Linked DNA regions of Homo sapiens: region 1 is linked to region 2. The links come from fine-mapping of genetic effects on gene expression. A gene starts in region 2. The other region holds a variant in brackets. All regions are shown on one strand. Distances are between the middles of the regions.

Region 1 (5,387 bases), 71 kb after region 2:
GTTCAGCTAGTATCCCTTCCCCAAAACATATCCCAAATCAATCCCATCATACTCCCCACCAAGTCTCTCTTCTCTGGATGACACTACTTCTGTTCCTGATCACACTGTTCTCCCAGTTCTGGTTCAGAAACACAGCCATCTTTGAATCCACCCTCCCTAGAGAGTTGGTTGTAAGATAAATTCACATGTTTTCTCAGGTTAGCTTTTGCTCTTCCAGCAAGAAGAGCATCACTATCACCCATAGTTCAATCCTTTTCATCTCATGGGGTCTGAACCACATTCTGGAGCTTTCCTGACCAGCATCTTCTCCGTTTGTCCTGCAGCTTCTTCTTCCTACAATGGCTCTGCCATATTGAAATATAATTCTTTAGCTTAAACTCTCTGTGATTTTTATTGCCTCCTAAATAAAGTTGAAATTTACTAAACTCAAAATCTGGTGTACAAGTCCTTCTATAATCTTTTCCCATACTATTTGTCTAGCCTTGTTTTCTATTAAGTCTTTAAAAACAATTTTACTACTCACAGGGCTGATTTACCTATTAGATACAGGAAGTACAGCACCTAGGTCCCACAATGCTTTTAGAGGTCCAGGATCTTTTAATTTCTTTTTCAATCAAAAGAAAAAAGAACACAATCCAAATTGTATTGTATGCATAATTATATTAACACAGTTGTAAAACATAATTTTAATATTTTTTGGACAAAGATACCTATGAAAGCAAAAGTGTCAAGTCCCATGAAAGTCATGTGACTTTCCCCGAAATAGAAAATATAGATTTAATAAATGAACTTTGGTGAAAGATTTAAAGACAAGTAATAAGGTATGCACTCATTAAATGTAAAATAAATAAATAAAATCATCAACCCTGTCTCAAAAAATGTTTAACTTTCATTTGTTCGTTAATAACTCAATTACTCACTCATTCAATCAACAAATATTAATTGCACTCTTACTATTTTTCAGGCACTAAACAATCAGTCCTGGTCTCTGTTATCAGAGACTTTTGATGCTACCATTGGAGTCAGACAAGCAGACAAACATCAACAAAATGATTATAAACTATGACACACTATGATGGGAAAGAAGGAGGCTGACAGAGAGGACATTGGCAGGAAGGAGCCCTACTGTAGATGTGGTGGTCAGAGAAGGGCCTTTGTGAGAAGCTGACACATAATCTCACAGTTGAAGTTGTGAGAAGGAGCTGGTCCTCCAGAGAGAAGTAGGAAGAGCGCTCCAGCAGAATCTCTGGGTGAGACTTGGACATCTGTGTTGTTGCTCTACTTTCTGGGTACATCTGATGAAGGAGGAGCCCCTGCTGTTGGTCTCATCCACAAATACAGTTTAAGCTCTTCATTTCCGTGGTTTTGTTCATGCTGCTCCCTTGCCCTAGAATTCCTTCTCTTCTGCCTCCCTTTCTCTATCTTTCAAGCCATACTCATCTTCTAAGACCCAGTTCAAATGCCACCACCAAGCCACTGTCTCTATGCCAACTCCTCTGGCCAGATGCCTGCTCTCCTTTAAAGCCCCCACTCTAATGCTTAGCAGTTGTCATCCCCTACCCTCTTCTTCCATATGTTTTATCTCCACTACTTGGTGGCAATTTCTTAAAGGTAAAGACTGTGTTTTATGTCTTAGCATTGCTTGAACAACCTCCACAGTGACCTTCACACATTAGAAATTTAGTAAAAATTTTCTGGATACATGAAAAATGAATGAGTCATGATTCCAAGGTAGACTATGTATTCACATCATATTCTTGCAATCTTTCCCTTATTTCCTTTGCAGACAAGTGCAGCTACGACTGCTGCTGGGACCGCGATACTGTGATGAGACTTTGCATATTTAAAAGGATGTCGAGAGAGGAGGAGGAATGATAAATGAACTCAGGAAGATGTGATGTCTTCTGTGATGACACTAATAGATGGAATGCAGAATTCAGCTCCAATACTTAGGGTTGGAAACCAAACATAAACAAGCAAGCAAGGAAAATGAAAAGGAATGTGTGTGTGTGTGTGTGTGTGTGTGTGTGTGTGTGTGTGTAGGTGTGAGAGTATATGAAATACATGAAAAGATAAAAAGTTAGATGCTGCTAAAGGGACAGACATGTAGGAATTTTACATTAGGGTTGTTCTGATTTTCATTTTCTTGCCTTTTAAAATTTAATGATAAACAAGTCTCCAGAGATTTTTACAGCCTGGGAGACCACTGGTAAGACAACAATATAGGTGGTCCTCCAGCAGGATCTAAATCAGAGCCTTCATAGTGGACTGTCGGGCCAGGTGCAGCTGTAGACAATGCATCTTCAGGAGTGGGGTGAAGAAATTTAATGGACTAGTAATGCAACAGGAGGTAGAAGAAAAGTGTTCTCTCACTAAAGCATGGTGGGTGTTTTCAAAATGTTTAAAAAACATTTTTAGGCCGGGCACAGTGGCTCACACCTGTAATCTCAGAGCTTGGGGTGGCTGAGGACCCAAAAGGAGGATCCCTTGATGCCAGGAGTTGTAGACCAGCCTGGTCTAACATAGCAATACCCTGTCTCTAAAAAAAAAAAAAAAAAAAAAAATTAATTAGCCAGGCAGGTGACAAGTGCCTGTAGTCCCAGTTACTCAGGAGGATAAGGCAGGAGGATCGCTTGAACCCAAGAATTTGAGGTTGTGGTAAGCTGTGATCGTGCCATTGCACTCCAGCCTGGGTGACAGAGTAAGACCTCAATT[CTT/C]TTTTTTTTTTTTTTTTTTTTTTTGAGGCAGAGCCTTGCTCTGTTGCCCAGGCTGGAGTGCAGTGGCGCGATCTCGGTTCACTGCAAGCTCCGCCTCCCGGGTTCACGCCATTCTCCTGCCTCAGCCTCCTGAGTAGCTGGGACTACAGGCACCCACCACCACGCCCAGCTAATTTTTGGTGTTTCTAGTAGAGATGGGGTTTCACCATGTTAGCCAGGATGGTCTCGATCTCCTGACCTCGTGATGCACCTGCCTCGGCCTCCCAAAATGCTGGGATTACAGGCGTGAGCCACCGCGCCTGGCCAGACCTCAATTCTTTAAAAACCAATTGTGTTATGCTTTTGGTTGCTGGGTTCTTAGAAGGAGGTTCTCAAGGTGGCAAGTCAGAGACATTCTGTTCTGTCTGTCAGAAATGCAAAATAATGGAGCAAAATTCCAAAGATAAAGTGAAAAATATGGCAATCAGGATAGCAAGAGCTGAGTGAATGGTGTGAGTTTGAGGAGGTGTTTTCGATTAACTTGTTTTAACATTGAGCTGTAAAAAGAAGTTAAGATAGGGAAGGATGGGGTGAAATATTGCCTGGTCTCCAACTGAAACACATGGGCCTGAGATATGGTGAAGTTTTACTAATGGGATGAAAAAGTGGAGTAGGCCTGGTGTGGAGGAGCACAGCATCCTGAGCCTCGGAAGTGATTCAGGTTAAAGGGCCTCTAAGGCTACACTCTCAGAGCCTTGGAAGAGCTACCTGGCTTGAGCTCTACTCATAGCTACTTTTCTATCCCCTGGTTGTCAGCTCTTCAGCCCTTTATTCATTCAAAAAATATTTATTGATGGCCTACTAAATGACAGGCCCTGGGTGAACAGCTGTGAAAAAAAAATGGGCAAATGTCTCTGCCCTCCTGGGATTCATATACTAAAGGGTCAAGAATATAAGAATTTATTAAAAGAACAGTCCATGGAGGAAAAAATGAAGCACAAGTATAATGGATCTATTGACCTGTGTAATGACCCCAGATCAAGACCCTGATCACCCCATTTATTTGGTGCCTGTTATTGTAATGTCTTCCGCCATCTGTTATTACTACTTACCACCTCTCCTCTGAGACGTATGGTCCAAGCCACATACCCTCAAAAAAAAATCTGTATTGAAGTATAATTTATGTACCATAAGGTTCACCTATTTTGAGTGTATAATTCAATGATTTTTAATAAATGTATAGAGTTGTATGGTCTTATCATTACAATCCAGACTTAGAACATTTCTGTCAGCCTGAAATGTTTCTTTGTGCCCATTTGCAATCAATTCTGCTTCTACTTTCAACCCCAGGCAACCACTGATCTGTTTTCCATATCTATAGATTGGCCTTTTCTGGACATTTTATATCAATGGAATCAAACAGCATAAGTTGCGCATTCCTAACCCCCAAATCCAAAATGGTCAAATTTGAAAATTTTCAAGCATGACATGACACCACAAATGAGGAAAGAAAAGATGCCTGACCTCCTTACATATGCACACCACAAGTGGAAAATTTCACACATAACCTCATTCACATGATGAGTTGCAGTCAGTCAAAATGCAGGCATGCAACACACAGTTTATTCAGCCTTCTCAAGACAAATAGACCCACCCAGCCCCCATCAGCTGCAATACATCTTTTCTACCCAATGCCCAGATTCCCCCATGCAAGCACACTCACAAAGGGTAATAAAAATGACACACGTGCAGGCCGGATGTGCCAATAGCAGGTTCCCCATGATGCCCCATGGGGAGCCAAGATGGCATGTATTACTCATTGTGTTTTTTTGCTTATTCTCTGCTCTGTGGTATAAAGATATTGTTGAAAATGTCAAAAAGGTCTGCATATGGGTAATAGTAATAAGAAAAAGAGAACACATTTATGTTTGTCTGTAGAACAGATACTGAACAGCAGTCTAAGTGTGAAATGTCTTATGGAAGAGTATGGTGTTGGAATGATCACCATGTATGAAAATAAGGATAAACTGTGGAATTTTTATGCTTAAAGTGATGAGCAGAATTTGATTAAAAATAGGAAAACACTGCATAAAGCTTAAAATGAAGATCTCGATTGTGTATTGAAGGAGTGGATCCATCAGCGTTGCAGTGAACACATGCCACTTAATAGTATGCTGATGGTGAAGCAAGCAAAGATCTATCAGAGTGAACTGAAAATGGAATGGAACTGTGAATATTCAACAAGCTGGTTGCAGAAGTTTAAGAAAAGACATGGCACTAAATTTTTAAAGATTTGTGGTGATGAAGTGTCTGCTGATCGTGAAGCAATGGAAAAATTTATTGACAAATTTGCCAAAGTCATCACTGATTAAAATCTGACACCATAACAAGTCTATAATGCTGATGAAACATTACTCTTTTGGTGTTATTGCCCCAGAAAGACACTGACTATGACTTATGAGATGACCCCTACAAGAATAATTGAGGATGCCAAGAACAGAATAGCTACTGGGATGTGCTAATGCAGCAGGCACATATTGGTATATACTTGCTGTGATAGTCAAAAGCTTACATCCTTGCTGTTTTCAAGAAGTGAGTTTCTTACCAGTCCATTATTATGCTAACAAAGAGGCATGTATCACCAGGAATATCTTTTCTGATTGGTTTCAAAATATTTTGTACCAGTAGCTT
Region 2 (5,387 bases):
TCTCCTCTGTTCTCTAGTGGATTTCACTCTAGATTGTCACAATAGGTATTTTGATTCTGTACTTTAAATACTGGGTTGTCTAAGTGTTCCCAAATCCTTTGTGTTCATTCTTAGCCATTCACAATCACCAAGACCTATTTAAAAATTTACATTAACAGGGAAGCTAACAGACACTCCCTTTTCATTCTTCAACTCTTTTGAAAAGCACGTAATACTCATTCTTGAATGTATCATGCTTTTTCTAAGCAACAGTATTTAATCTATTTGCCAAAGGATGGCATTTATCTGTTGCTTTTTTGGTTTATGGTTCTTTCCATACCCCCAATTATTTTTTCTTGAACATAAGCTGAAATTCTTCCCCTGCAGATGTTTGAGGCTGGTTCATATAGTCCCTAATCCCATTGGATATCCTTACTGATTTATAAAAGTTTCCCTCTACTCAGATTAGCATCAAAATACTCTTAATGCTTTTAAAAATGCCATCATATGAACTGATTTGGATCTTTAGGAGTCAGAGAGATTTATTCACTTCCAATCACTTGAATTCGTGTCAGTGTTTCATGCTTCAATGACCCAATTAATTTCAGTGCCATTTTCTTCTTTCGGGCTTAGCAGCTGCTTTGTGGTGGCAAAGGTTCATTCAAATGTAATGTATTTGAGGGCAACATATGAATCTTCATGTGTGGCTTTACATTTCATTCAATAATAGATGCCCTTCTTTTCCCTGTGTATGATGTGTTATTTCTTTTGATGCATTCAAGCTTTTCTCTTTATTTTTTTGACTTTCAATAGTTTTATTACAATGTAGACTTCTTTGTGTTTATTTTAGTTGCTATGTATTTAGCATTTTGTACTAGTAAATGTGTTTTTCATCAAATTTGGGGAAATTCTGGCCACCACTCTTTCTTCAAAAATTTTTTCTGTCCCTTTTTTTTTCTACTTCTGTTGTTTACATGCATGTTGGATTGTCTGACATGTAGCAAATCTCTGTTGGTCTACTCACTTTTTAAAGATAATTTTTCTCTTTGTTGTTTACTTTTAATAATTTCTATTGCTCTATCTTCAAGTTCCCTACTTTTTCTTTTGTAATTTTTTTTGGCTGTTAAATTCACCCAGTGAATTTTTTATTTCTAAAATTATAATTTTCAATTTTCAGAATTTCCATTTGGTTTTAAAAATCTTTTTTTTTCTTTTTCTTTGCTGAGATTTTCTATTTGTCTCCTGAGATTTTCATTCATTGAAAACATGTTTTACTTCATTGAGGATAGTTATAATAGTCACTTTAAAATCCTTATCTGTCAGTTTCAATATCTGATTCATCTCAGGGTTGATCTCTAGAGTATGCGATCCATTTCCTTGAATTTCATATGTCAGATAGTTTTGGATAGTACTCTGGACTTTGTGAGTGTTAAGTGGAGAGTCTGGATTCTATTATTCTTCTCTGATGAGTGTTATTTCCTTTGTATTAGTAGGTAATTTTCCCGGCTAGATTTTAACTGAAAACTCTCTCCCTTTTGGAGACAGCTCTGGTCTCAGTTCAGATCTTTTGTTTTTAACTGAGCTGCTGTGATTCTGTTTTGGGTGGTTCAGGATCTCTCAGAGATGTGGGTTGACAGTTTGGGGATCCACTCTCTGACTCCTTCCTTGGGATTTCTTAATCTCTTCAGAATTCAAAATTTTCTGTCTTCACTTTTCTGCTTCCCCAGACAAGAATAACTGATAAGTTTTATACATGCATCCCTGGTACTGCTGAGCCTGACTTCTGGACTGCACTTTGCCCCAAGCTAAATGCCAAAGAGAGGAGAATTTTCTTGTGGAGTTCTTGATCTTCAAGCAAGCTTGCCCTTCCTACCAGTCTGCTGTTCACATTCCAGTATATTCAGCTTTTTGTATTGTGTCCAAGTGTAGTTCCTGATCTTCAAGCAAGCTTGCCCTTCCTACCAGTCCACTATTCACATTCCAGTATATTCAGCTTTTTGCATTGTGTCCAAATTGTTTTCTGCTGGGGGATGGTCCACTAGGGTCTTAGTCTATCATGGTTGAAAACAGAAGTTATGTCCTGCCTGGGACTTTGGATTTTGAGTCACCCTTGTCCTGGTCAATGCGATAGCCTCCTAACCAGTCTCTGTTTGTGTCCTTGCTCCCTCCAGTCTATCCTCAACATATCAGTCAGAGTGATCCTATGAAAACGTCCAGGAGCCTCCAATAGCTTCCCATTTCACTCACAGTAAATTAAAAAATACTTAAAATGTGCTACTCTGCCTGTTTGAAACTCCTCATCCTTGGCTTCCAGATCACATGCTTATGCTAGTTTGTATCCTACCTTTCTGAACACTCGTTCAGCAACTCGTGTTTCCTCTAATCCTGAAACGTGGGTCCACCCTGAAAGTATGGTTCTACTTTAAAGTTCTATGTCAGGGCACTGAGTAAGGCCTTTCCCGTCCCCAGCAATCAGAAACCAGGACCCCACTGCTGAAGGCAAAGAGGACGTATGTATCCCCCAACTTTCTCAGAGAGTTATCGGCAGCACTGACTTAAAGAGGATTAAGAGCTTCAGGGCGCAGGCTACTCTTTAATATTTTTCACGTTAGAATTTGCTCAGATTTGAATAAACGCAGAGCGAAACTAGAGAGCGTTCGCGCAGGTTCTAGCTACCTTGGTCAGAAGGAGGGGCTGATGCAACTTTCCTCCCAGTTTCTGAGCCCTCTCGCACTGCAGCTGCGAGCCTCGGGGAAGCGGAACCCACAGGCGCGCGCGCCGCTGCTTCTGGCCGGGCGCGGGTCGTGGTGCACCACGGGAGCGCCGCACCGGCCGGCATGGAGGAGCGCGGCGATTCCGAGCCGACCCCCGGCTGCAGCGGCCTGGGTCCGGGCGGTGTTCGCGGCTTTGGCGACGGCGGTGGAGCTCCTTCGTGGGCCCCTGAGGACGCCTGGATGGGCACTCACCCTAAGGTCAGGAGGCGCGAGAGGAGCAGGGCGCCGTCCAGGCCCCTAACCCAGGCAGAACACTCCCAGGCAGCTCTCTTTCTTTCTTCCTCAGTGGGAGACTGAGGACGCGCGCCACCCTCACCGAGGGGGACCGGTGTGCACAACTGCCAGCCTCAGGCAGCATCGGTTTTGTTTGTTTAAACAAGTTGCACTATCTCAATCCCCCAGCCAAAGCCATTTTGGAACTGAGAGCCAGACAGTAACTCCGCCCCTCTCAAGCCGGAGATCCCTAATAAGCGCTCCACTAGTTTTGCTGTCTAGGTAAATCCCCTTTGGGGGATAAATTTATTTAATCCTCACGGTAACCATGCAAGACAATTTGTGGGCGATGGATAAGATCTAGGGGTCCATAGTGATAAAGATTTAAGCACAGTCACGTTTACACTTAGCCTTGGGCCCAGAATGCATCTTTATTTTGAAAAGGTGCAGATTCCTAATATTTCAGATTTCTTCGAAAGTTTGAATAGGTTCTTGCTCAAAGCAGAGCTACTCACATTTTGCGTGTATTTTTCTAGATTAGCAGCAGGCGAGATCAAGATAGTCCTCTGCTTACTTCTGCTTGAGACATTACTGCCTTGTACAAGTACGGTTCCAAGCAGTGAATAGACAGTGAATGGAGATGTGGGTTTTGTAAGAATCTCAAAAACTAGTCTCTACGGTACTTTAACAGAATTGCACTCTTCTGCTAGAGAGCAATAATTCATAATCATCTAAAAACAGCCAAGAAAAAATTTGAAGGTATAAGTTTGAAGAGTTAACCTTTTTCAGCTTCTCTTGCTTAATTTTATCTTCCTACTCTGTCCCCTTCATCCTCCCAAAAGGTGAGAAAAAGAAACAATAGCATGGAAATATTATTTAGTGCCCTTTTAGGGAAACAATAGCATGGAGAGGCAGCATATTGGTTAGGCGCATGAACTCAAAATCAGACTCAGTTTAAATCCTGATTCTGTCACTTATCAACCTTGTGATTTGGGACAAGTTGCTTGATCTTATTATGCCTTAGTTTCCTCACCTGAAAAATGGGGATATTAATAGTCCATACTTACTTATACGGTTGTTACAGGATTAAATTAATGAATATTTGTAAGCCATTCAACATACAGAAAGCACTATATAAGTACTTAATAAGCGAAACACCAGTAACAACTTTTTAAGACTTTATCTAGATTTGGTGGTGTTATTCAGTTTATATACTTGTAGATTGTTTTCTTTTTCAAGTTAATGGCTGTATACACCTTGACCATCAAATCTCCCCTTTTGATTTCTCTTCTTGAAGGATCAAATTAATTTTTAAAAGAAAAAGAACAAGTAATAAAATAATAGGGGGTATTTGTTTTTCCAATTTCACCTTTCTGTTAATTTAAAAATTATGTAGTTTCATCCAGTAAAATGGTACCAGATTTATTATCCCCAAACACACTTTTATTTTATTATTCTCCTGCTTAGAAATCCTCAGTGTTTCCATACTGATAAAATCACATGTTTAGCTTGACCACCAAAGCCTTGTAACCTGGCTCAAAATTATGTTTTGGGTGTTATTTTCAAAACATGTTTGAAGTCGACAACTAATTAACCCCTGTCCTCCTGAACCTGTACAGTTACAGTGAAGCTGATGGGAGAATGTGACTTTAGACCTGTCCCCATGCAGGTCTGCTAATAATTCAACTCAGCATTAGCCCTGCATATCCACCTAGTCGCTGGCATAGCTGGGCAGCCTCAGAATTCTCCTGCAGGTGTAGGCCCCTGAAAAGTATTCCCCTTATGCTGACCAGTAGTCTGAAAGAAGCAGCTTTCTCTAGTTCCTTGTCAATTCCTTTTAAAAAATCTACTCTTAAAGTGAGAAAGAGTGGGTAGAGAGGCTAGGACTGATACTCTAGCAGATTCTCTCCATATACAAATAAGAGGCTAGGGAAATACACAGTACCCACTAACATGTCCCATCACAAGTTTTATTAAAAAGGTTTCTCTATTGCTGGCAGATAGGTTTCTTTACAGGCCCTTGAATGTATGTGGCTTAATCCCACCTTTGTGTAATTACCTGCAGTATTACTCTACTTCTCCACTTACTTAAATCATAATGTTCTTCAGTGCTCAACTTGTATCCCATCCCACCTCTGCTATAAATCTTTCACCAGTCCCTCTGAGTAGAGCTCTTCTGACCTGCTGTGTCATGTTTTTTATTCCATTTACATGGTTTTTAATCACTTACAGTCATATATTGTTATTTGCCTAACAATTTTAAGTGTGCATGTATTTAACAATTGCAAGTTCTTTAGAGACAGAGATAAGATCTTATATTGCCTTTTAACTTCCACTATACCTAGAAGAATTTTATAGATTATATATGCTTGATGACCACTTGATGATTGGAAGAAAATATTAAATAATTTTTTCTTCTCA

Alleles and levels. Alleles are on the strand shown, and positions count from the first base shown. SD is a standard deviation of normalised expression in the study named.
In carriers of allele CTT in region 1, the expression in monocytes after interferon gamma of the gene that starts at base 2,791 in region 2 tends to be lower than with C alone (moderate effect, 0.46 SD a copy in Fairfax 2014).

The links. PIP is the estimated chance that this variant, and not a neighbour inherited with it, causes the effect. A credible set is the group of variants that fine-mapping cannot tell apart.
Region 1: its variant is the best candidate, but not a certain one, in a credible set for the expression of TSEN15 in monocytes after interferon gamma (Fairfax 2014, PIP 0.73).

The regions. Positions count from the first base shown.
Region 1 is chr1:184,120,001-184,125,387 of GRCh38, forward strand. LOC102724830 (a long non-coding RNA gene) reads left to right here. Exons shown (of 4, transcript XR_426875.4): 3 at 965-1,250; 4 at 1,787-3,963. Among named protein-coding and RNA genes, the nearest start is that of TSEN15, 71 kb to the left of the region's middle. The variant CTT/C (reference allele first, on the strand shown) is at 2,716.
Region 2 is chr1:184,048,940-184,054,326 of GRCh38, forward strand. It overlaps TSEN15 (tRNA splicing endonuclease subunit 15), which reads left to right and starts at 2,791. Exons shown (of 5, transcript NM_052965.4): 1 at 2,791-2,951. The coding sequence starts at 2,817. RefSeq lists enhancers at 1,710-2,645, 2,398-2,507, 2,568-2,697, 2,576-2,870.